Regions from separate parts of the Homo sapiens genome. Here region 1 is linked to region 2. The links come from fine-mapping of genetic effects on gene expression. A gene starts in region 2. The other region holds a variant in brackets. All regions are shown on one strand. Distances are between the middles of the regions. Region 1 has its middle 140 kb from the start of C14orf180. Region 2 holds the start of AHNAK2 (AHNAK nucleoprotein 2).

Region 1 (11,583 bases), 540 kb after region 2:
ATCAGCAGCGCCCCTCCAGGAGGTGCATTCGGCTGCAGCCTCGAGCAGGGCCAGGCTTGAAGGGGGTGGCACAGTGGAGTGTGGCGCGGAGTGAGGGAAGCCTGAGGCAGGGGGAGGCCTGCAGAGCCCTGCTGGGTGGGGAGGAGGAGGCTTCTGGAAGGACCAGATCTGCTCTGGAGGAGAGCAGCCTTCCAGCAGGTGAGGGGCAGGGGCTTCCAGACCAGCCTGAGCCTGCCCTGCTCTGCAGCTGCCACTGGGCCCCGGAAAGCAAGGGGCCTGCTGCCTGGGAAAGCCTCATTTGCAGGGAGGTGACCCTCAGGGTCCAGAGTGGGGAGGGCCGGAGTGGCTGGGCTGAGCTGTCCCCTGAGGACTCTCGTGGGGGACAGTGCTGGGGCGGCTGGCCTGGAATCAGGATCAGAACTCCTGGGTTCCCTGTAATGTGCTGAGACAGAGCTGCGGCCGGGCCTCTGACTCTGGGGTGGGTGGGGCCCTCTGGGGCACCCCCTCGTTAAAAGTTAGTGCTGAGGCAGAGTCTTAAGTCGGAGCAGGCAGGGCTCCCCTGCAGGCAGGCAAATCACAGCCTCAGCCCAGTGATTAGGCACCACCTCTGTGGAAGGGTCCCAGAGCTGCCTGTGATCCCTCACCCTGCAGTCTGAGTAATTCCTGAATGACAACCATCCACACTCCCTCACCCGTGCGGATACTGCCGGAAGAGCCCTTGCCAGGCCCCTACAGCTGGGTCTTCCCAAATCCACCTTCCACGGCTAGTTCCATCCTGTCCTGGGGTCAGTGGGGGAAGGGCAGGCCAGGCTCTCATCCCTCACCATGGCTGCTCCCCGTCATTCACTCATTTGCTCTTTCATTCCCTCATCCCACTGCTGTTTTCAGATGCTTCTGGAGCACAGAGCTGGCCATGTGGTTGGCTGGGAGCGGCAGATAAACCCATGCAAGTTTTATGGAGGAGAAAACAGAAGTTCTGAGAGATCACTTGCCCAAAGCCACATGGTTGGAAGGCTTGTGTTCATCCCTGCTCCCAAGACTCGCCTGACTCCACAGCATTCCATAGCCCTGGCCTGAAACTCTGGTCGCCTCGTGCCCGGTGTAAGGGTGGGGGCACTCCCAGGAGGGCTCGGAGGAGGCTTGGCTGGCCGTGTTCTGGGCCCTGCGTGATCCCAGGTTCTCCGACGGACCCCGGGGTGGCCGGGAGAAGCCGTATGTGCTGTGGACAGAGGTGTCTGCCCCCCAGCCCTGCCCAGGCCCAGGTCCTGCTCCTGTGCCTCGTGAGGGGGTGTTGCTGCCCAGTGCAGGCCTCACCTAGCAGTTCCTGGGCACTGGCTGAGGTCTGCTCCTGCTCCAAGTCCGGGGTCTCAGCCAGGCCCAGCCGGTGAGGGAGGCTGTGTGGCCTCGTGGGGTCGGGGCGGGTAGCTTCGAAGTGGTCAGCTGCTGCCTGCTGTGGCGGCTGGGGCTGGAGTCCTGCTCCTGGCTTTCCAGGATGCACAGGCTGGGCTTGGAGGAGCAAGAGGAGGCGGATGGAGGGCGGAAAGGAGCCCAGGGCCATGGCTCCCAACTCCTCTGAAAAGCCCGTGAGCTCGATAGCATCCACTTTGCATTTTATCAAATCGCCATTTCTCACAGAAGAATCTGTCAGCCACCAAAATTGCTGGCTGAAAGGAGCAGGAATGAAAAGATTCACCTTGAGGACATTCCTCTTTGTCAGGAGCAGAAAAGATTCCATTTGCCAGCCGGGAGAGGATTCCGGGTTCATTGATAGCAGCGTGCTGAGCTTCACGGGGAAGGGCTTCAGCAAATGGTCCTGCTTTTTCATGTGAAGCAAATTGTGGATAATGCGCCCTGCATTCTGTAATTACGAACATGAATAAAAGGGCCTTGGGCATTCACCGCGGAGTGGAAGCCTGTGTACCACCCAGGCATCCAGCAGACGGTGGGCCACGTGGTGTGGCCACTGCTGTCCTGCTGTCCTCCTGGCCTACCATCCTGCTGGCTGTTCCTCTCCAGCTGAGGCATCCTGGTGCCAGTGAGCCCTGAGCCCTCCGTCTCCAGCTGCTGCCCCATGCCCAGTGCCTGCCTGCTCAGCTCCCAACTCACCCGTGTCCTTCCTGTCTCTGCCCCAGCGAGGTTTGCTAAACCATGTCCATCCTCCAGCCCCTTGGAGCACCCTCCCCCAGGAAGCCTCCCTGACCCACCATCCACTGGGCTGTCTCCCATGCTGTCTGGAGCCTCACTTGTGCCCGTTGTCCAGGGCCTCCACCCCCGGCAGGGGTCCAGCTCCGTCTCCCTCTGTGCAGGCACCAGGTGACTCTGGGACTCAGCCCCTCCATCAATAAGGTGGACACCACCTTTGTGTTGCAGCTGGAAGGAAGGACAGGGCCCGGAATAGGGAATGGGCAGGGGTAGGGGAGCTAGGGACTCTGGCTCAGCCCCACCATGGATTTGTGGGTGTTGTGGGTGAATCTCTTCCAATCTCAATGCCTCAGTTTCCCCATCTGTCACTGAAGCCTTGTATAATCAGAAAGGGATGGGTTGGTGGTACAAATCCCAGAAAACACTACTCGAAACCCCACCATTCAGTTCCCACGTCTGTGGCATTAGTGTCCTAGGCTGCCGTACCCAGGTGTAGGCACACCTTGTTTTATTCCTCTTCACTTTATTGCACGTTGCAGATACTGTACTTTTTTTTTAACAAATTGAGGGTTTGTGGCAGCCCTGTGTTGAACAAGTCAATCAGAGCTGTTGTTCTAACAGCACGTTGCTCATGTCACATCTCTGTGTCACACTTTGGTAATTCTCACAACATCGCACGCTTTTGCATCATTACTGTATGTTATGGTGATCTGTGGTCAGTGATCTTCGATGTTACTAGTGTAACTGGGGAAACCATGAACCATGCCACATCTCTCACTTTAAATCAAAAGCTAGAAGTGATTCACCTCTGTGAGGAAGGCAGGTGGAGACCCCATGCAGGCCGAAAGCTGGGAGCTGGGCATCTGGTGCCGGTTGGCCAAGTTGTGAATGCCAAGGAAAAGTTCTATAAGGAAATTTTAAAAATTTTAAAAATGCTGATGTGGAGACAGCTCGAGTGGTCTGGATAGATCCAAGCAGCCATCACACTCCCCTTAAGCCAAAGCCTCACCCCCAGCGAGGCCCTGATTCTCAGTTCTGTGAAGGCTGACAGGGATGAGGAAGCTGCAGAAGAAAAGCTGGAAGCTGGCAGAGGTCGGTTCGTGAGGCTTAATGTGTGTCCCCAGAACATGAAAGTGCAGGGTGAAGCGGCAAGTGCTGACGGAGAAGCTGCAGCGAGTTATCCAGAAGATCCAGCTTGGATCATCGACGAAGGTGGCTACACTAAACAACAGATTTTCAACGTGGAAGACACAGCCTTCCATTGGAAGAAGATGCCATCTAGGACTTTCATAGCTAGAGAGGAGAAGTCGATGCCTGGCCTCAAAGCTTCAAAGGACAGGCTGCCTCTCTTGTTAGGAGTGAAGGCAGCTGGTGACTTTAAGTTGAAGCCAGTGCTGATTTACCATTCCTGAAATCCTAGGGCCCTTAAGAATTACGCAAAGTCGACTGTCTGTGTTCTGAAAATGGAACAACAAAGCCTGGATGACAGCACATCTGTTTACAGCACGATTGGCTGAATATTTTAAGCTCACCGTTGATACCTACTGCTCAGAAAAAAAAAAGGTTCCTTTCAAAATATGACTGCTCATTGACATGACCTGGTCACCCAAGAGCTCTGCTGGAGACTCGCAGGAGACGAACGTTGTTTTCATGGCTGCTCACACGACATCCATCAGGCCGCCCACGCATCAGGGAGTCATTTCAACTTTCAAGTCTTACTATTTAAGAAATACATGTTGTAAGGCTGTAACTGCCATAGACAGTGATTTCTCTGATGGATCTAGGCAAAGTCAATGGAAAATCTTCAGAAAGGATTCTCCATTCTAGAAGCCGTGAAGAATGGGAGGAGGTTGAGATATCAACATTGACAGGAATTTAGAAGAAATGGATTCCAACTCGCATGGATGACTTTGAGGGTTCAAGACTTCAGGGAAGCAGGAACTGCACATGTGGTGGAAATAGCAAGAGAACTAGAATTAGAAGTGGAGCCTGAGGATGTGACTGAATTGCTGCAGTCTCATGAAGAAACTCGAATGGATGAAGAGTTGCTTTTTACGGATGAGAAAAGAAAGTGAACACTGTTGAAATGACAACAAAGGATTTAGAATATTCCATCAAAACTTAGTTGATGGAGCAGTGGCAAGGATTGGGAAAATTGACTCCACTGCTGAAAGAAGAACTACTGTGGATAAAATGCTGTCAACAGAATCGCACGCTACAGCAAAATCTTTCAGGAAAGGAAAAGTCTATTGATGAGGCCAGCTTCACTGTTGTCCTAAGAAATTGCCACAGCCACCCCAGCCTTCAGCACCCACCACCTCCATCAGACAGCAGCCATCAACATGGAGGCAAGACCCTCACCAGCAAAAGATGATTCACTGAAGGCACAGATGGTCGTTAGCATTGTTTGGCAATGAAGTGTATTTTAATTAAGGTAAGTACATTGTTTTTTAGACGATGCTATTGCACACTGAATAGACTACAGTACAGTGAAAATGTCACTTTTATATGTACCGGGAAACCAAAAAATTCATGTGACTCACCGTATTGTAAAACTCACTTTATTGCAGTGGTCTGGAATGGAACCCACAATATCTCTGAGATTTGCCTGTACCAGATCGTGGGTGGCTTAAACAACAGAGATTTTTTCCCGCAATGTTTTGAAGGCAGAAAGTCCAGGATCCAGGCATTGACAGGGCTGGGTCCTTCCGGGGCTGTGAGGGAGAACTTGTTCCACAGCTCTTGCCTCGTTTCTGGAGGTTGCTGGCCGTCTCTGGGGTCCACGGCTTGTGGAAACATCACCCCGACCCTTGCTCTCACCCCCTCGGTGTTTGCCCTGTGCACGTGTTTGTATCCAAATTCCTTCTTTTTATAAGGACAACTGTCATGTCCGATGAGGGGCCTGCCCTGCTGCAGGGTGGCCTCATTTTTCTAATCACATCTGCAGTGACCCTATTTCTAAATAAGATCACGTTCTGTGTACTGGGGATTCGGGCTTCGACATCCAAACTCCACCTGTAGCATCTGGAGCTGGTGGCTTGGGCTGCTCAGCCTCTGTGCTGGCGTGTACCCCCGACACAGGCCACAGGGACACCTCCTCCCTGCAACCCCTTTGCCATGGGATGGCCCATGCCAGGGGGACGGCTACTTGACTTGGGGGACGCAAACAAGGTGGGGGCTGGTCTGAGGCCAGAGTCTGCATCTGGGTGCCCCACCAAGGCTGTGTTCACACCTCTGAGAGCTGACCCACAAACTCACCTGGGACCCGGGGGCCTGCAGCCCTCAGGACCTGCCCCTGCCCTCCCCTCCCCTCTTTCTTTCCTTTGCTTTGCTTTCTTAGAGGATACAGAATGGATGTGGCTGGTGGGACACTCACAAGGGGCTTTTAGACACTGCCTAGTAAAAGAGCTTGGCGCTTGAGG[G/C]GGCTTGGCCAAGTCTTCATCCCCCACCTGCGGGGCATCCAACTGCCCTGGATCCCCTGCGTCCCTTCACTGTGACCTTGGGCCTGGAGGGAGCAGACAGGCAGGCCTCACCTCCTGCGCTGTGTGCAAATTAAGTGCTGTGATGCCAGTGGAGCTGGCCCCCGGGGCTGGCCTGGGTGGTCAGGCCCCCCTTCCTTCCTCCTTCCCTGCCTCCCTCCCTCCTGCCCTTGGAAGAACAGCCTGGGCTCTCACCCACCAGGGAAGACTTCTTTCTGTCTCTCTCTTTCTCTCTGCTGTGGTCTGGGGGCTTCCAGGGGTGGTCTCCTCACTGTGTGCTTAGCGTCTCCTCCCTGCCCACTCCCAGGCACTTTCTGTTGTGTTCCCATGGGGTGGGGCGGGGTGAGGGCACGGATGTGGCATGTGGCCTTCCCAGTGAGCGCTGAATAATTAACAGCCAGGTAATGAAAGGCTCACTGGGTATTGATTGTGCCCTGGGGCCAGTGTGGGGAGGACTCATGTGTCCCAGCCCAGTGTCACCACCCACAGGCAGGCGGGAGGGCACCAGCTCAGAGGAACCTGAAGCCAGTGAAGGGCCCACAGCTGCCCACTGAGCAGCTGGCCAGGGCCCAGGAACTCCCCCTCTGCGATACCTGCCCCAGGAGTGCCCTGTCAGAGGGGAGAGGCCCAGGAGAGTGGGCGCTTACAGGAGATCCCCCTGCCTGACAGTCCTGGAAGGCTTCCAGGGCAGGTGGGGCTGGGCCTCCTGCAGCTGGGTGGGGCCGGCAGAGGTGGGCAGTGTGCTTTCAGGGCCCTGCAGCAGCTGGAGCCACCGCCTCATCCAGAGCCCCGCTGCTCAGAGCAGGGCTGCCTTCCCTCCATAATTAATTCATTGGGCCTCTGGCCCCTGTCTGGCTGCATCTCCACAAGGGAAGAAAGAGACCAGCCACCTCCCTCTCTGAGAGCAGCTTACACAGCAAGGCCCGTCAGGCTGAGCCACAACCTGGGACCCTCACCCTGCCCCCGTGCTGTGCTGGCCTGGCCCTTGGGTTCACCCACTGCTGGCTGCCTAACACCCTGTCCTCCAGGGGCTGGAGTCCAGCCCCTTTCTGGGAGCCCCCATTCCAGCCCCACAGGCAGTGTAGTAGCCAGTGCAGAGTCCGCACACGGCAGTCACCTGCCTCTCCCCTGGCCCTGGCTGGGTGACTCCCTGGGGTGTGGGGTGAGGACCATACGGCTCCTGTACCAGGGGCAGCCCCAAACTCCTTGCCTGGTGCTTCACCAGCCCCCAGCGTCTCCAGGTCTGATTGACTCATTATCTGCTCCATCGCCCTCCTTCCCACACCTAAGCTCTGACCCTGGGTAGGGGTCCAGCCTTGCCGTGTCTGAGGCCAGTGGAGACGGGCCTGGCACTGCCCAGCAGAGCACGCACGGCCATGCTGGAGCTCACCCCACAGGACGGAGAATGACACCAGCGCAGCTGCAGTAAGGACCAGGGGGTGCCCGGGAGGCTGGAGGCTAAGTAGGGCCCCTTGGTCCTGTGGTGGGAATGGGAACAGGGCCCTGGTGGGAGGGAAGTCCTGGGACAGAGCTTGGCCAGCCAGACACAGGCATGCAGTGGGAGGAGCTTGTGTCAGCAGTTCCTGGGGGAAGCTTACGGTCAGCCCCCGGCACGTCTCCTGGCATGGCCGCGGAGAAAACAGGCCACTGCGGGGAGGCAGCCGCCGGGCTAGGGGCTTGGCAGAGTGACCAGGCCCAGCTGTACACCCTTGCTGCCGTCCTGCTTCTCCATAACATCCTGTGTGGTTTCCTGCCCTGGCAGTCCTGGAGCCTTCACCCCGACTGCCCCAGGCCTGCCTCCCTCAGCTCCGCCCATCTGCAGGAGGCTCAGCTCCACCTCCCCCTGGAAGCCCGCCAGGACTACCGGGCCAGGCCAGAGGGCTTCCTGCGAGCGCCCACTCTCCTGGGCTTCCTCCCTCCTAGTGGGCGCTCCCCAGTGGACACGGATTCACTGTGCGTCCCTGGACACCTCTGGAATGTCAGCTGTCCCAGCGCATTGTCCCGATTTGTGGGATGGACTGCAGGGTTGTTGGGAGGAATAGAACAGGGCCCACCACAGCCTGGGACCATCTGCACCAGCTGGGATCATAGCTTGGGGCAGATTTTCCTAGTTCTGGCAAGACTTGCTTGAGCATAGAGAGGTCAAGGAGGCCGCATGTCTTGGGGGTAGAGTGCAAAGGGCAGGGGCTGACCCTTCCCAGTTAGCGGGGGTCCTGGGGAGGAGTAGATGCTGGGCCATCGTTCCGTGGAAACAGGACTTTAGGGGAGCCAGGGCCGTGGGCCTACCCTCCCTTCTCACTGCTGGTGACCAGGCTCGGCTTGAGGATGGGCGTGGACACGCTGGCTGCAAGGGCGCCATGTCTGGCGCCTACCTTGGGCCTGCTCTGCTCTCCTATGACTGCCAGTGGCCCCAGCACAGGTGATGGAGGGAGTGGGACAGGGTCCTTCCCCAGCACCTGCCCTCAGGGTGGCTGGACTGCCTGATGACAGCCTGTACTGACCCTGTGGTGCTGGCAACCCCACAGGAGCCCTAGGCCCTGGCCAGCCAGGCCTTCTTGGGGCACGACGGGGCCAGGGCTGGCTCCAGGGAGCCACTCGGCTGTGGGGCGTGGGCCTCATTTTAGGGTTTCTCCTCCTCCCACTCCAAGGCACTGTGCCCACTAGTCACCCCTTGCTGGGCCTCCGGGGGTCACAGTGAGGCTGGGCCAGGTCCCCTGCCTGGAGCCCACCTCCCTGAGCACCCCGACTGCCCCACAGGAACCATGGTGGGACTTGCTTGCTGGTAGCCATCAAGTCAGCCCTGCGAAGTCTGATGTTTGGAAATGCCGCTCACAGGCCACCTGCCTGCTCTTGGAGGCCCCGTTACCAGGAAGGCCTTTCCCATTCTGCAGGTCTGGGCATGTCGTGAGTGGGCCAGCACTCACACTGCCTCACAGTGAAGGGCACACAGCTGGGGACCCTGGAGTCCTCTGCTCCGGGAGGGGGTCCAAGCCCCTGAGACTCACCCTTTTCCGGGTAGTTCCTAGCCCTACAGCATGTTCCTGGCCAAGACTCCCACCTCCTGCCCTGCCCCTGGCCCTCCCTTGCACCCTGGGGGCCTCCTTACGTTGCTCCTGGGCATTGCCCTGGCAACCCCTGGTCTCCATCTTCCCTCAGTCCACCCCACACCTGCTGTCAGCATCAACTTCAAACACATTCCAGAGCCTACCCTTCTGCTCAAGGACCCGCCATGGCTCCCCATTGCTGTGGGGTCAGAATGCCTCTGTTCAGTCCCCAGCCCTCTGTTTGGTTCCAAATGAGTGCCTGTGTGGGACTGCTCAGCCCCTCCCTGCAAAGCCCATGGAACTTATACCTACCTTCTGGAGTCCTTGGTTGCTGGGATCAGGGCACCCCTGAGCAGGTGGTCCTGGGGATGGAATAGGGTTGGCTGGAGGCACCACAGCAGCTAACACGGCCGGGGCTCCAACCTCCCACCCGCCCCTTTCTGTTGTGTTGAAGGATGGGGGTTGGTGAGATCCGCCTGGCTCCAATCCAACCCCTGCCACTGGCCAGCAGCCCCTCCAAAGCAGGGGCCCCCCACACCAGTCCAGAGGGCCATCCATGCTGGTCCCCACCTGCTCCAAAGGTGTGGGGAGGCCGGTGGCGGGTGGCGACAAGCAGGGGCACAGGGCACTAAAGCCCTGACCTTACATTAGCAGCCGTGAGACTTCTGTCAGCATCCCAGGCCCCTCGGGGACAGTGTGGGGCAGGAAAGCTCAGGCTGGTAGACTCCAGGGGAAGGGATGAGCCCTGTGAACTCCCAGTAGCCCCAACCTCACTCCCCGAGGCCCAGGAAACTTTGTTTCAGAAATCAGGTTCTGGGCTGGGGACAGAAAGAATGCAGGACCCGGACCTCCTGAGGTCACTTTTACAGAGAAGACCCCTCCAGCTCCGGGGCGCCTGAGCCCGCTCTGTCTGCAGAGGGCAGCCACTCACTGCAGGCGCGGGCCCACGTGAGCCCTAGGCCGAGGCTCTGTGGCTGGTTCCCCCTCTGGAGGGCAGGAAGGACGGGGCCTGAGCTCAGGCGGGGTGGCCCTGCACAGGGTCCCTCTAGACACCCTCAGGCCTTGCCTGAAGCTCACCCTCCAGGGAGGTAGCAGGGGCCACCTCAGGTGCCACAGGTGCTCTTGACAGAGACTGTCACCCTGGTCTCTCCGTGATCCTCAAAGGCTGGGGCCACTTCTGTGACAGGCAGCCCAGGGTGTGGTGACCGTGCCTAGCCCACCGTGAGCATCCGGGAGCTGGGGACTGGCGGGCTCCAGGGTGGCTACCAGCTTGTGAAGGAGGGGTTGGGCTGAGACCTGGCCCACAGGACATCACCGAGGAAGAGATACCACTGAAAACAAAACCCGTTAGCCCCGTGGCTCTAAAGTGGACCAGGGAAGTCTCGGGGAACCCCGGCCGTGCTCCTCAGAGCAGCTGTGGGTGGAGGTCACCTCGGAGCGGAGCAGGCACAGGGTGCCCCCATGGCTGGCCCGACTGGCTGGAGGGGCTCCAGGAGCCCTGTGGATGCCGTGATTGGAGGGGGCGGGCGCTGCCCTCTCTAGAGGGGCCGGGGTGGCAGGGACACTTTGCCACCACAGCAAACTCAGTTTCTGACCATCTGTCCTCAGCAACTCCACAAGATGGAGGAGGTGCTTCTGGTCCCAGTTGTGATTCCTTCTGTGTGGGCTAAGAGCTCCTTCTGCAAGCTCCAAGTCCAGGCTTTGCTCCAAACTGGGCACCGCTGCTGTGCCCCACCTTCCTGAAGGCCTCCTCACGGGTGTGGGCAGGTGGGCCAGGCTCGGGGCCCTCAAACAACGGGGCCGGGGCAACCACGGAAACCGAAGCATCAGCGCCTGTCCACAGTGCGGGGCCCGTCTGGAGTAGCCGGCTCCCTGCCACCCCCGTGGGAAGGGCACCCGGGGCCTGCCAGTGCAGAGCCACCCTGAAGACGACTGCTGCTGTGGACAAGCTCAGGGAGCCGCCAGGTGCTGCTGGGAGGGCTGGGACAGCCAGGTGCGCCTCGGGCCGCAGCTTGCAGATTAGGGGAGGTGAGGTGAGGGGGATGAGGAGGTGTGGGTGGTGCTTGAGCACCAGCCTCAGAGATACCCTCCCGGCGGCCACATCCTAGGCTGGGAAAGGGGTCTGTGCAGCGTTGTTTGCGTCCGTGTGTTCCACGGGCTCCGGCCCCTTCAGGATCGGCCTCCCCACTGCTGGGCCAGGAGCCGGTTGGGCATCTCCAAGGATGTCCCCAGGGCTGACCCTTGGTGCTTCATAGACTCCGAGGCTCCTTGGTTGTGTCCCCAGCTCTGGGTCTCTCTGGTCCCTGGTCCCAGACCCTGGTGGAACCCAGGGTGGTGACCCTGGCCAGAGCCCTGGTGGGCTGGCTGCTGTGGGTCCCAGGCAGGCCCTGGTCTCCACCAGCCCTGCCACAGAGTGCAGGTAAAATGGGGACCGTAGGTATGGGGAGGCCCAGCCAGCCTGGCCAGATGCAGAGGGCCAGGCAAGTGGTTGCTCTCGGTGGCATGGGGACCCATTTCTCTTCGCTCCTTTCGGGCTTGGTGTGGCCCAGACCCTTCCTCAGGCCTCACCCCACTCTGGCCCAACCTCAAGCTGGGGCCTGCCCCAGGGACCACCCTCCACATCACTGGAGCGTGCAAGGACCATGCCCAGACTGAGCCCCTACCCCAGGATGGGCTACAAGGCCCTCTGGAGACATGGGGTGGCCAGAAGGGACCCCTGGCCCTCCCTGAGCCCAGGTCAAGGCTGTGCCCTGTGGGGGCAGCTCCAGAGCTGTGCCGGCTCCTCCCACAGACAGCAGGGAGAGGAGCCTGTGCTCCTCCCACAGGAGCCGGCTCCTCCCACAGACAGCAGGGAGAGTTTAGTGTGCAAACTGGAAGGCCAGGGCCCTTCTGGGGACCGGATGCTCACCTGAGCCCCT
Region 2 (11,583 bases):
GTGTTGTCCTTGTGTACAGGTGGGGAAACTGAGGCCCCACCCCAAAGGCCTGCGTGAGAAGCAGAGCTGGGACAGGAGCTGCTCTCCTCGTTCTCTGCAATTCCCCACCCCCGTCTGGGCCTCAGCTTCCACGTGAAGAGCGTGGGGAGCACAGTACTCCCAGGGTGGTTGGAGGATAGAAATGACCCATATGGGTTGAAGAGCTGGTGTGGCAGTTGAACAGCCCCACAGAGATGTCCACATCCTAACCCCTGGAACCTGTGGCTATGTGACCTTACAGGGTCAAAGACACTTTATAGATGGGCTTAAATTAAGGCTCTTGAGAGGAGGAGTGGAGCCTGGATGAGGCATGTAATCACAAAGGTCCTGAGAAGGAAGCAGGAAGGTCAGAGTCAGAGAGGAGACGCAAAGATGGAAGCAGAGCCGGAGTGATACGAGACTGCAGATGCCTCTGGAGGCTGAAGGGACCAGAAAACAGATCTCCCCTGAAGCCTCCAGAAGGCACACCATCCTGCCCACACCTAGAACTGGAGTTGATAAATGCGCACATGCTGTTTTCAACCACTGTGTCGGGGGTATTTTGTTATGGCAGCAGCAGGGAACTAATATGCCTGAGTGACCCCTTGTGACCCACTGAGAAGTGCTGCGTCGGGGAAGCCAAGGTGCAGAGGAAATGGCAGCGGCAACCTTGACATCAGGTGCCCAACCCTGGTTGCAGGAGGAGGTGGGGGCAGCCCAGGTGGCTGCTAGGCCGCTGCTGGCTTCTTGGGCCAGCTTCTGGGCAGACCATCCTGCTTCATGGCACAGCCTGAAAGGCACGAGCTGAGGATAAGGCTTCCAGGTTGGCGATTGGAGCAGGCACTGCTCAAATTGAACTGGCCCAGCTGCTAGGGGAGACTGGGCCGGAGAGGGTGGGTTCCCATTAAAGCCTGGGTGTGGGGGACATTAGCCATGACTCCCGAGGGGCATGGAGGGGGCAGGTGGAGTGTGGTCGGGACGAGGAGCCCATGTGGCCCTCCCAGGACCTCTCCAGCCACCTCGGTCCACCCTGAGCCCCAGCCCTGCTCAATGGCTGTGTGGGGAGCACCTTCCCTTCTGCAGAGGAGCCAAGCTTCCCTACCCTAGTCTCAGGAGGAAGGGGCCAGCCTGGGTTCTGGGGCAAGTGCCACCTATGCACAGAGCCCCACAGTCATCTTGGGATCTCCCAGCATCACCTGATGAGCAAGGACTGGCTGGGGAGGGGTCCCCAGAAGCACCCAGGCATCCTGGTCCTCTGGGATCCTCAGCCCCAAGTCCCTAGGGCAAGTTGGGGCGTGTGCCTGTCCTCACCTCTGGCAGCAGGAGTGCCAGGGCTTGCAGGCGGCAGCATGGGAACCTGCTGCTGCTCGGATCCCAGGCTAGCCCACACGGACTGCTGAGCCAGAGAGCCCGATGAAGACATGGGTTGAAGAAACCCATCCGAGTGGAACGATGGCAGCACCCTGACATGCCCCACCACTGCCACATTTCCTGATCCCAGCTGTGTGGGTGCAGAGGAAGTGGACCTGGGGACAATACCCAGGCCTGAAACGGGCACCCAGCTTTGGGGGAGAGTGAGGCGGTTAGAGGTCAGGAGTCAGTGTGGTCAGGCAAGAGTGGGAGGCTGGGTGGACAAGTGTCCCCCACCTGGTCAGGGGGTCCTCCCCCATCATCTCCGTATAAAAGACTGAGGAGGGGCAGGCAGTGGCTGAGACAGTCCTAGATGCTCCCACCTCACCTCACACCCCTCCATCTGGGCACGAGGCTGGGCTGGATGCAAGGCTGTGGCTGGGGCGGGGCAGGGACCACAGCAGAGCTATTTTTGCTTATGTTGCTGCAGCTGCCGCAGCAAGAATCAATCATTGATGCTGTGGGCATCCCTGCCTGCAGAGGGTGGAGGCAAGCAGCGCCAGTCAGGCCATGGGGGCAGGGCAGCGGCTCTGCTGATGATCAGGGCCTGGGGAGCCTCGGCTCCTCACCCAGGCCCCGGCACCCAGCCTCAGGAAGGCTGTGGGCAACCAGTGGGCTGGGCCAGTGTCCCCATCTCAGTGGTCCAGGGAAGAGGTGGAGGCTGTGTGCACAGGAGAGAGCATGCGATGCCCTCTCCCTGGGGTGACACCTACAGCAGGTGTGGGGCCTTGTATGTGCCAGGGGCGGCTGTGAGTTGGGCTTGTGTCCAGCGATGCTGTGGGTGGGGGCATGAATTCCTGAGCCCAGGCATGCTTCTGTGGTCCTCCCTAGCTGGGCATCTGTCCTCAGAGGGGCACATGGGGAGGAAACTGGAGCTGGGCGTGACGACAGGAGCGCAGGCTTCAGCTGGCGGGCAGGGCCCGGGATGGGGGCTGGCAGCCCCTCTCATCTTCTCCCCTGCTCCCACAGCTGTGACCCTGGACCCCTGTTTCAGCTGCTGAGGCCCTGGTGGGCGGGAGGAGGGATTCTGGCTGGCCCCTGGGGAGCCAGTCCTCAACTGCACATAGCCGCAGCCTGCCTGTTTGTGGGGGTACACTGCCCAAGTTGCAGGCCCTCCCAGAGGCATCTGGAGTGAGATAGAGCTCTCAGGACCCCAGGTTCCTTGAGGTGGGGAAGCTCTCTGGACAGACACCCCAAGGTGTCTTACTCATGACACTGTCAGCTTAACCCTCAAGCTAGGAGAAGACCCCCAGAAGGAGGGTGGGAGGGGCAGTCCCCAGCTCCCCGACAGTCACAACCAGACTGTGGCCCCAGCACTCAGGGCAGCGCAGAGCCAGAGGCCACTGCAGAGAGACACCAGCCCTCTGTCTCAGAGTGGGCAGGAGAAGGGAGGGACGGCCTCCGGGTGGAGCAGGCCCTGCCCAGACCCCATCCTGAATTCTGGGGCCACAGGGGAGCATGGCGCAGCTGCGTGTGTGTGTCTGTGCCCACCTTGGAAGTGGGCAGCCCCGTGCAGGGCAGAGGCAAAGTTCCTGGACCTGGGCAGCTGTGGTTGGTTCTGGGACCATTTCTTAGCCAGGGGAGGACAGGCCCAGTGGACACAGCTAGGGGAAGATCTCAGCCACCCCAGGCTGAGGGGCAGGACCAGGGCAAAGTCCTCCCAAGTGTGGGGTCCCCACACTCCCGTGACGCCACGCTGAACTTGCGCTCTCACTCGGCCCCCACCAAGATGGCCTGGAGGGTTCTCTCATCTTGCTGAAGGAAAACAGAGGCAGGGGCAGCAGGTAGTAGCCCAGGGACAGGGACATGTCGGGGGCAACCTCGGCTTCCCCACCCAGGGCTCCATCCTCACCCATCCCGCAAAGCCAAGGGGAGTCCCCGTAGCCCTGCGCAGATCACGCCAGACAATCAGGAGAGGGGCCACTTCATTTGGATGGGGACCCAGGAGGCCACATGACTTTGTCAAGGGCACACACCTAAAGGGGCTGAGGACACAAAGGTGGGTGAGTGCCCTGAGCGGCCCCTCGTTCCCAGGCCCTGCAGCCAGACTCAGACACAGAGGACTAGCGGGCGAAACCCCAGCAGACCAGGCAGAGGCATAGACACATCCAGGGACACACACAGAGGTGTATGCACCCAGGCACCCTAGTGGCTCTCTCCCTGTGTCCAGGGAGTGACTGACTCCAGGTGACCAGAGCAGGGTGGGCTCCTGGGGAGGGAGGTAAGTGCAGGGCCTCTGGACCCCAGGCAACACTGCTCAGCCCCGAAAAAAGGACACTGCGAGGGGGTGGGGTAAGACCTGCGCCAGGTCCCCACACGAGGGAGAAGGTTGTGCCCATCATGCCTGGGCTCACTGGCAGGAGGCTGCCAGGGCCTCTTCCCAGCAGTGGCTCTGGCGTCCATCTGACCTGCTGCTGGATGGCTGCCCGGTGGCTGCAGCGCGGCTAACGGGAACTGTCTAGGGTGAGTCATCGTGCCCGGGTGGCTCACCTGGGCCCGCTAGCTGTGCGTGGTCTCCAAATGAGCCCAGGAATGCGTGTGCCCCTGTGTGTATGTATACACGTGCATGGGTCTGTATCCTGGTGTGGGTGTTCATGCATGCAGGCCTGAGTGTATCAAATATCTCAGGTGGCCTGTGTCTGTGTCTTGGTGAGTTTGTGATCTTATCTATGAGTGTGTGTGTCTGCCTGGCCCTTCCGGTACAGCCTGGCCTCTTCCCACCCCAGGAAAAGGTGTCCGTGTGTGTGTGTGTGTGTGTGTGTGTATGACAGAGCATGTGTGTTTGTGTCTCTATGTGTATGTGTCTGTGTGTCTCTGTGTGTGTGTCTGTGTGTGTGTGAGTGTGCCTCTATGTGTACCTGTGTATCTCTGTGTCTGTGTCTCTGTCCATGTGTGTCTGTGTGTCTCTGTGTGTGTCTGTGTGTGCCTCTGTGTGTGTGTCTGTATGTGTACCTGTGTATCTGTGTGTCTGTGTCTCTGTCCGTGTGTGTCTGTGTGTCTCTGTGTCTTTATCTCTGTATGTATGTATGTGTGTGTGTATCCGTATGTGTGTCCGTGTGTGTGTGTGTCCCTGCATCTGACCCACACCCCTGGACATTGCCAGGCAGCTCCTCATGGAGGTGGCGGTCCTCTCCTGGGTCTCTTCCAGCCCTGCCTTCCCCGACAATCCCTGCAGAACTCCACTCCTTCTGGGGTATGCCCGGTTTGGGTCTACACCAGGCCAGGCGTCACCAAACTCTTAGAACTCCCTTGGGCCCCTGCCCTCCCTGTCCACACCCCCAGGTGTGCTGCCTCTGTGTGGTGCCCAAGCTAGATCCCAGGGAGGCTCCCACCCTCTGCACTCTGATCCTCACCAAGTCCCCTCTGCCTGCATATCCTTTCACTCCCTCCCATACCATGGCCGTGGTTCCACTGCTCCTGTTTCCAGCTGTGCCCCATGCCAACACCCCTAGCCACCTGCGCAGTCTTTCCTCAGCTCTCACCACGCTCAGAGACCCTGCTTGGAGCCTTAAGTGGCACCTCCTACCGACAGGAGCCCCCTCAGCCTCCTTGCTGCCCTGCCCCCGCCCACTGGGCCTGACTTTCAACCCCAGCCCTTTTGCCCCCATTCTCTGCACACACGCTACTCTGTCCCCTCTCTCCAGAACGCTTCCTACACTGCCTGGCACATGTCTCACCCCTAAGGTCCCAGCTTACACTGCCAGGAGCCCTCCAGGACCTCCGTTCCCCCGCCCCCAGGGCAGTGCCGCCCTGCAGAACGCCTCATCCTTACAGGCTTGCTTGTGTCTACGCCAGACCTGGAGCCCCTGGGGCAGGGCCAGTGGGGTGCTGGTTGCCGCTGTGTCCTAGGCCCTAGGCTCTTGACAAGAATCAGCAGAAAGGATGACTCTGGGCGGGGTTCTGGCTCCAGGACTGCCCCCAGCGCTGGGCGCTCCCGCACGCGGCGCCCACCCCGCAGCCCTGCCCGGGGCGCCCTGTTCCCGCTGCACGCTCTCAGCCGCGTCCTCGTATCTGCCACCCACCAGCCCCTGCAGAATTCTATCTTGTCCTTATGCTGCCAGATCACCTCCTGCGGTGCCCGCGACCCCTGTTGTCCCCGCAGGCTGCCCCCCACCCCAGCTTCTGACTAAAGTGTCTGTCTCCCCCGGAATGGGAGGTGAAGACAGCGGCAAGTCCAGGAGCCTCGGTGCGGGGATCCAGAGGTCGCTCCCTGGCGGGAGTCCAAAGTTAATTCTGCGGACGCGACAGGCGGGCCGGGGGCGCGGGGTGGGGCGGGGCCTGGCTGGGAGGGGCGGGGCCGCGGCGACGGCAGCCAATGGGCTGAATGAGGCCGACGGCACCGCCCGCGAGCGCGCTCCGCAGTGGCCCGGCAGGGCTGGGCGGAGCCGGGCGGGGTCCTAGCTGAGCGGCTGGGTAGCCTGGCGCGCGGTGTCCGCAGTCCGAGGTCGGCCGCCCGCGGCAGCGCAGGGCAGCGGGGCAGAGCGCGGCTCCCGCCCGCCCGCCCCGTGCGCCGGAGCCGGGACCAGCGACTGGACGCGACGGGCCGCCAGGCCCGCACCGCCTGGCCGCCGCGATGTGCGACTGCTTCCACATGGTGCTGCCCACCTGGCCCGGAACCCCCGGCAGCGGTGCGCCCCTCCCCGCCTGCAGCCCGCTCCCCTGGGGCGGGTGGGCTACGCGCGAGGGCGCGCGCCGGGGCGTGTCCAGGGGCGCGCAGTGCGGGCCTTGGGGGCGGGGGACTCGGAGACGCCTGCGGGACTCGCGCGTGGTTCTGGGCCTTCCCGGCCGCTGGAGTCTCTTCTCCCATGCCTCGCGTTCTACCTGTCCGTGGCTGTAGGTTCCTGCTCCTCTCCCGGCCTCTGAGACTGTCTCTGTCGCTCACTTTGTTTCTCGGTGGCTGACTCGTCTCTGTCGCTCACTCCCTCTGTCACTCGCGGTCCCTGTCTGTCTCTCCTTCTCGCTCCTGCCCCGCTCCTGGGACGCTGTCTGGTCGAGAGGCGGCCTCCTGGGAGGTGCTACCGCACTCTGGAGCAGGGCTGGTGTCTGCAAGGGGCGTGAAAGCCGGGGCCGCCGGGACCCGGGGCACCTGCACCAGGCTTGCCCTCTCACCTGCTTTGCGGGAGAGCAGCCAGGCTGGTCCAGGAGTCTGGGCTCTCCACTTTGGTCCGGGGCTTCCAGGCAGGGCTGGGCTGCGTCTACTGTGTGGCTGTGTGGTGGGGTCGCTGGCTAGGTGGAGGCTGTGGCAGGGCTAGGCCTGAGGTCTGGGGCCTGGTGAGGGGCCTGAATGGGGTCAAAGTCAGGCCACAGGGTCCCGCAGTGCTGGGCAAGGGAAAGTGGGTGCTACCTACTGGCATGCCCCCAGGGATGGTCAGTAGCCTCCCTCTGAGCCGCAGGCTACGGCATGTGTACCTGCTGCTCTTTGTGTGTCTGTCCCTGCACTGGGCCTGGTTCCGGGGCCTGGGTGTCTCAGCATCTTGGAGGGCAGGGCTGAGGGGGGCAGGGCAGTCCCTTGGGCGCTGGGTCTATGCTGCTGCAGCTGACCACACCCAGGGCATTGGCAGCCACTGGCCAGGGGGTTGGGCTGGCCGGCACTGGTGCAGGCTGGACCCCACTCCTTGGGGAAAACAGGTCAATGCTAATGGTGCCGACAATGCTGCAGGTGAGAGGGGTGCCCCTGGCCTGGGCATGCCCCCCAGCTGCAGCAGGCACTACCAAGGCCCCTCCTGTGGCCTGTCTGTCTGGTGCGCACTTAGGGTGGGAGGCTTGTCTGGGGGGCTCCAGAGCAGGGAGGCCCCTACAGCACCTGCTTCACGGTGTCGCAGATGGGAGCCCAAGGTGTTTGGGCACAGCAGCGGGAGGATGATGGCTCCGGTGGGCTGGAGGCCCCTGGCCCCCTCCTCTTTCACTATGACTGGCCCTGCCCACATGGCTGCAGGTCGACCTCCTCAGAGGGAGAAGGGCAGGGCCCCCAGGCATGGGACCACTACCCTGCCCCCAGCTTCCCTGCACAGCCTTTCTGCTCTGCTTCCTCCTCACTCACGGGCACCCAGAGACTCCCAAGCTGCAGGGTCCAGGACCATCTCATCCACCCCCTGCCTCCACAGAGGCTTGTGCTGGCTTCATGGTTCCCAGCCCGTCTGGGGCAGTCCCTCCCTGTGTCCAGCCTACGGAACCATCCGCTCTTAGGGAATAAGGTCAGTGGCTCTCGCTGGAGCTTTGGTAGGAGACTTGCAAGATCAGAGACCTTGGGAGTTCTGTCCAGCACACCGGTTCCCAGACCCTCCCCAACCCTGCGGCCCAGGAACGTGCATTCCTGACAAGCACCCTGCCAACTACTGCCTTTCCCAGCCTGGATTTGGTCCAGGCCTTTTCCACCTGCAGTTTCCTCTCAGCAGGCTGGAGATGGGCGGACTCTCCCCTGCTCTCGTCTTCCTGTCCAGTCCAAACCTGCCCTCTGCCCGACACACCAGGCACCAGCCCAGCAGGGAGCCATCTCCTGGGCGGCTTTTGTGCCGAGGCTGCCCCCTGGTGGCCATGCTGGGACCACCCCACGCAGCGCTGCCGACTGTAACACCAGCCAGTTCACTCCCAGTGGGCTCTGGGTGTCACACTCTTGCCTACTCCAGGGGCAGGTTGCCTCTTTCCCAGGGGCAGAGCTGGGCCCCTGATAACTGGGGAGACAGGGAACCCCTCCCCGGCCCCGGCCCCCACCCTGCACCTGCTGCCCCGGTGTGGCCTGAGCACCTCCCACGACCCCCCAAGAAAGCACCACCGTGTTGGGAAGGCCCCAGGTGGTGATACCATGCGAAGATGTGTGGGTGGTCTCTTCTCTGCGGTGGGGGTCATGAGATGGCTGGGCCCTTTCCCAAGAAGGGTGCAAAGCAAGGCAGCTGTGGAGGTGGTCTCGCTGTTCTGTGCCTCGCTGGTGCCCTCTTCAGGGCCTCAGGCTGCAAATGTGGGTCAGGACCTCACATTCGGGGTCAGGAGTGATTGCAGCTGCCTGTGCTGCTAGCTCCACGCAGCCAGGGATGCCGAGTGACAGCGCGGGCGGGTCTGTCACCACCCTGGTGTCTCCCTGACTGGGTCATCTACACTGGGGGAGGGCTGTATTCCCATTCTGCAGACAAGGACACTGAGGCTGGGGACAGTGACGCAGTGACTCCCTGGGCTCTTAGGGGCCAGAGCAGAATGTCGCACGCTTTGGTCGGTGACATGCTGTTCTGACAGGTGCTGGCTCTGCCCTGCCCCACCAGGCAGGGTGACCGCAGGCAAAGGAGCCCCTCTGTAGCCGCTAGTGGCAGGAATGGGCCTTGAGGAGGAGGCAGCAGAGGGCATCCTGGAGTGCCCTCCAGTGAGGTGGCCTCTCAGAAGCCACCGACAGTGATGCTGTAAGTGTGTTCCTAACAACCCCAGCTCTTTCCCTGGTGGGGAAACAGAAGCTGGACCACCAGGGAGGGAGGCTGGGCTGCCTGCTGGCCTCTGGCTCCTGCCCCAAGCCTCAGGCAGTGCCCACCTGGTGCAGCTCAGGGAAGGGGGTGAGGCTCAGAAGTGGACAGGAGGGTCAAGCCCGCAGAGCCTCCAGTTCCAATGCCCCAGGAGCCCGCTCCCTCCCGGCCTTCTCCATGCCCAGGAAGCTGAGTGCCCACTCCCATCCGGGCTCGTCGTGGCTGGGCCTACAACAGGAATGCCCTCATTGCCTTCTCTCCATTTGGCCAAGCTCTTCTGTCCTGGGCTGGGCTAGGAGCTGCCTCTTCTGGGAAGTCCCCTGGGTTGCTGGGCCCACTCCCAGCTCTCCCTTAGACTCTGGCCCGCTCTGTGTCCTTCCTCTTGTGACACCTATGCGGAAGGCCTCTGTGTTTCAGGCTCAGCTAGGGGCTGGCTTGGCCAGGTGTGGAGAAGTATAGGTGCTGGGGAGGAAAGGCCCCCAAGCCCCAGCAAGTGGGGGGCACTGGCCATCTGGGGGTCCCTGCCACCCACTTCAGGAGTAAAATGCCACACTCTCCCAGCTTGGTCTTCCGGCTGGCAGAGACGGACCCTGCGCTCAGGGATGGTGTGAGTTGTGGGGGTGCTTCCCCGTCTGTCTGGCGGCCTGTTCACCCATCCTTCTGGGTCTCAAAGCCACCCCGGGAACCCTGGGACCTGGGAGGTCATAGCTCAGCAGAGGAAGGATCCACCCATTGTTCAGTCAACAAATGTGAATCCCATTTTTGTGGCCAGTGCAGCCTTAGGGGGCACAGAAGGGCCAGAGAGGGCTCCCTGGAGGACAACTGGCCCAATGGAGACCGGGACTGGTCATGAAAAAGAAGCGGAGGCAAAGCAGCAGGAGCCTGCAGAGGCTGAGGGCGAAGTCAGGGACCTGCAAGTTGTTCAACCCAGTGCATCTGGGACGGGGTGGGGTGAGGATGGAGAGGTGGCAGCGTCAGCTGCTGGAGGGAGGGCTTTGTCCTGAGGGCACCGGGGAGCCCCATAGGTCTTAGGGCAGTTTTGGTGGGAAGGAAGCTGCTCCGTGGGGGATGTGGAGGCCAGGTTAGCTAAGGGAGCTTAGCGGAGGCTTAACTGGACACACAAGGAGGACGGGGCATGCTCCTCTGCTCCCCTCCACCCGCTCTAAGGGTGACGGGATCCCCAGCCACGCTGCGAGCTTGAGGGTGTCTCCACCAGGCCCCACCTGCACTCAGCCTGGGCCTCCAGATTTCCCTTTATTTTTCTTTTTTTGGAAGTCATCGGCTGGCCGGGAGTCAAGGCCTTCCTTGCTCGGATAAATATTTAATAGTCAGAAGCACTTTCTAAAATGGAAACATGGAGCTGAGCCCAGGAGGCAGGGGATGGGGAGGGGCTGGGGCGGGAGGCGGTACTCCCCCATCCCCGCACCCCACAGAGGCCAGGCAGAGGTTTTTGCAGCCACCGCCCTCCCCTCCCCTCCGGCTGCGGGTCCCTGCCCTGCCAGCTCTGCTGCGCACTCGGACCTGCTGACCCAATGTGTGCTTGTGAGGGTGGGAGTGGCATCGGGGCCTCCTCTCTGCAGAGCTCTTGGGAGGGACTCCTTCCTGCAGGGGTGGCGGTGGTGGGAGGCTAGGCAATTGCCCAGGCTGTTCCAGGCAGGAGTCCGGAAAGGGATCTCAAGCCACACCCCTGCCTGGACGCTGCTGAGGGTATAGCCAAGCAGGGGCAGCTGGGGGTACCCGGGATGTGGCAGGGGCAGGACACTTGGGGGACCCTTACTGGGCTATGTCCGTGTGAGCCCTGCCGGCTGGAGGGGCTGTCAGGTGATGGCGCCTGGGTGGGCAGGAGGCCCCATGACTCACCCCCACCAGGTGGAATTAAGGCCCCTTTGTTTAGGGCCACAGCCTTCGGTCCTCGCCCTGCTCCTGCTGCTTGGCAGGCCTGGCTCCTGGGTGAGCCAGCACCGCGGGCTCCTTGGTGACACACGCCCTGAGAATGCCGAGCTTCACGCCTTGGCCTCCTCCCGGCTGATTCACCATCCGCTGCCCTCAGCCCTCCCTGGCCCCCGCCAGCAGCCGAGTTCCCATGGCGACTCCTAGCTGGTCCTGGGTCCTAGCAGCTCTGAGCCAGGACTAGCTGTTCAGTGCGCATCACGGGACATGCCGGATGGCCTAGGTCTCAGGGTCTGTGATGTGGTGGCTTAGCAGAGCCCCTGCTTGCCGTCCCTCCAGCTGATCAGACACCTGCCTGACCACTGAGTCCCACCACGTGGTGCCAGGGGTCCGGTAGGTGGGGCCCCCGGGAACTGAGGCAGGTGAGCAAGGCCCTGCCCAGCACCCGCCTGCTGGTGGTCAAGTGTGCCTCTCTTGGGACTGGGTAGCAACAGGGGCAGGTGTGAAGCATGGCTCTCCAGCTCTTACCCTTCCCAGTAAGTGGCCCCCTGAGCCAGAGCCCAGGGCCTCCAGCCTGACCCCATCCCTTGCTGTGTGTCTGCACCGTGCTGTGGGCACCCACCGCCAGGGGCTCTGGAGCCGAGGGCTCGGTTCTGAGTGCCTGGCGGGGGAGCAAGTCCAGGATCTGAGCTGGGAGGGTGCCCCAGGCAGAGCCAGTGGCACGTGCTTAGAGTCTGGAGAGGGCCTGGGGCAGGGTGTGGTGCGTTCCCATGGCTGTCCGCGTTGGGGAGGGTGCACCAGGAGGAGATCTCCGTCATGT

Evidence for each region. PIP is the estimated chance that this variant, and not a neighbour inherited with it, causes the effect.
Region 1: its variant is fine-mapped to the expression of AHNAK2 in sigmoid colon (GTEx, PIP 0.96).

The regions. Positions count from the first base shown.
Region 1 is chr14:104,432,043-104,443,625 of GRCh38, reverse strand. No RefSeq gene overlaps it. Among named protein-coding and RNA genes, the nearest start is that of C14orf180, 140 kb to the left of the region's middle. RefSeq lists enhancers at 1,815-2,597, 7,773-8,638, 10,823-11,583. The variant G/C (reference allele first, on the strand shown) is at 5,565.
Region 2 is chr14:104,972,656-104,984,238 of GRCh38, reverse strand. AHNAK2 (AHNAK nucleoprotein 2) reads left to right here and starts at 5,865. Exons shown (of 7, transcript NM_138420.4): 1 at 5,865-6,056. The coding sequence starts at 6,002. RefSeq lists silencers at 5,722-5,881, 7,988-8,207 and an enhancer at 8,408-8,487.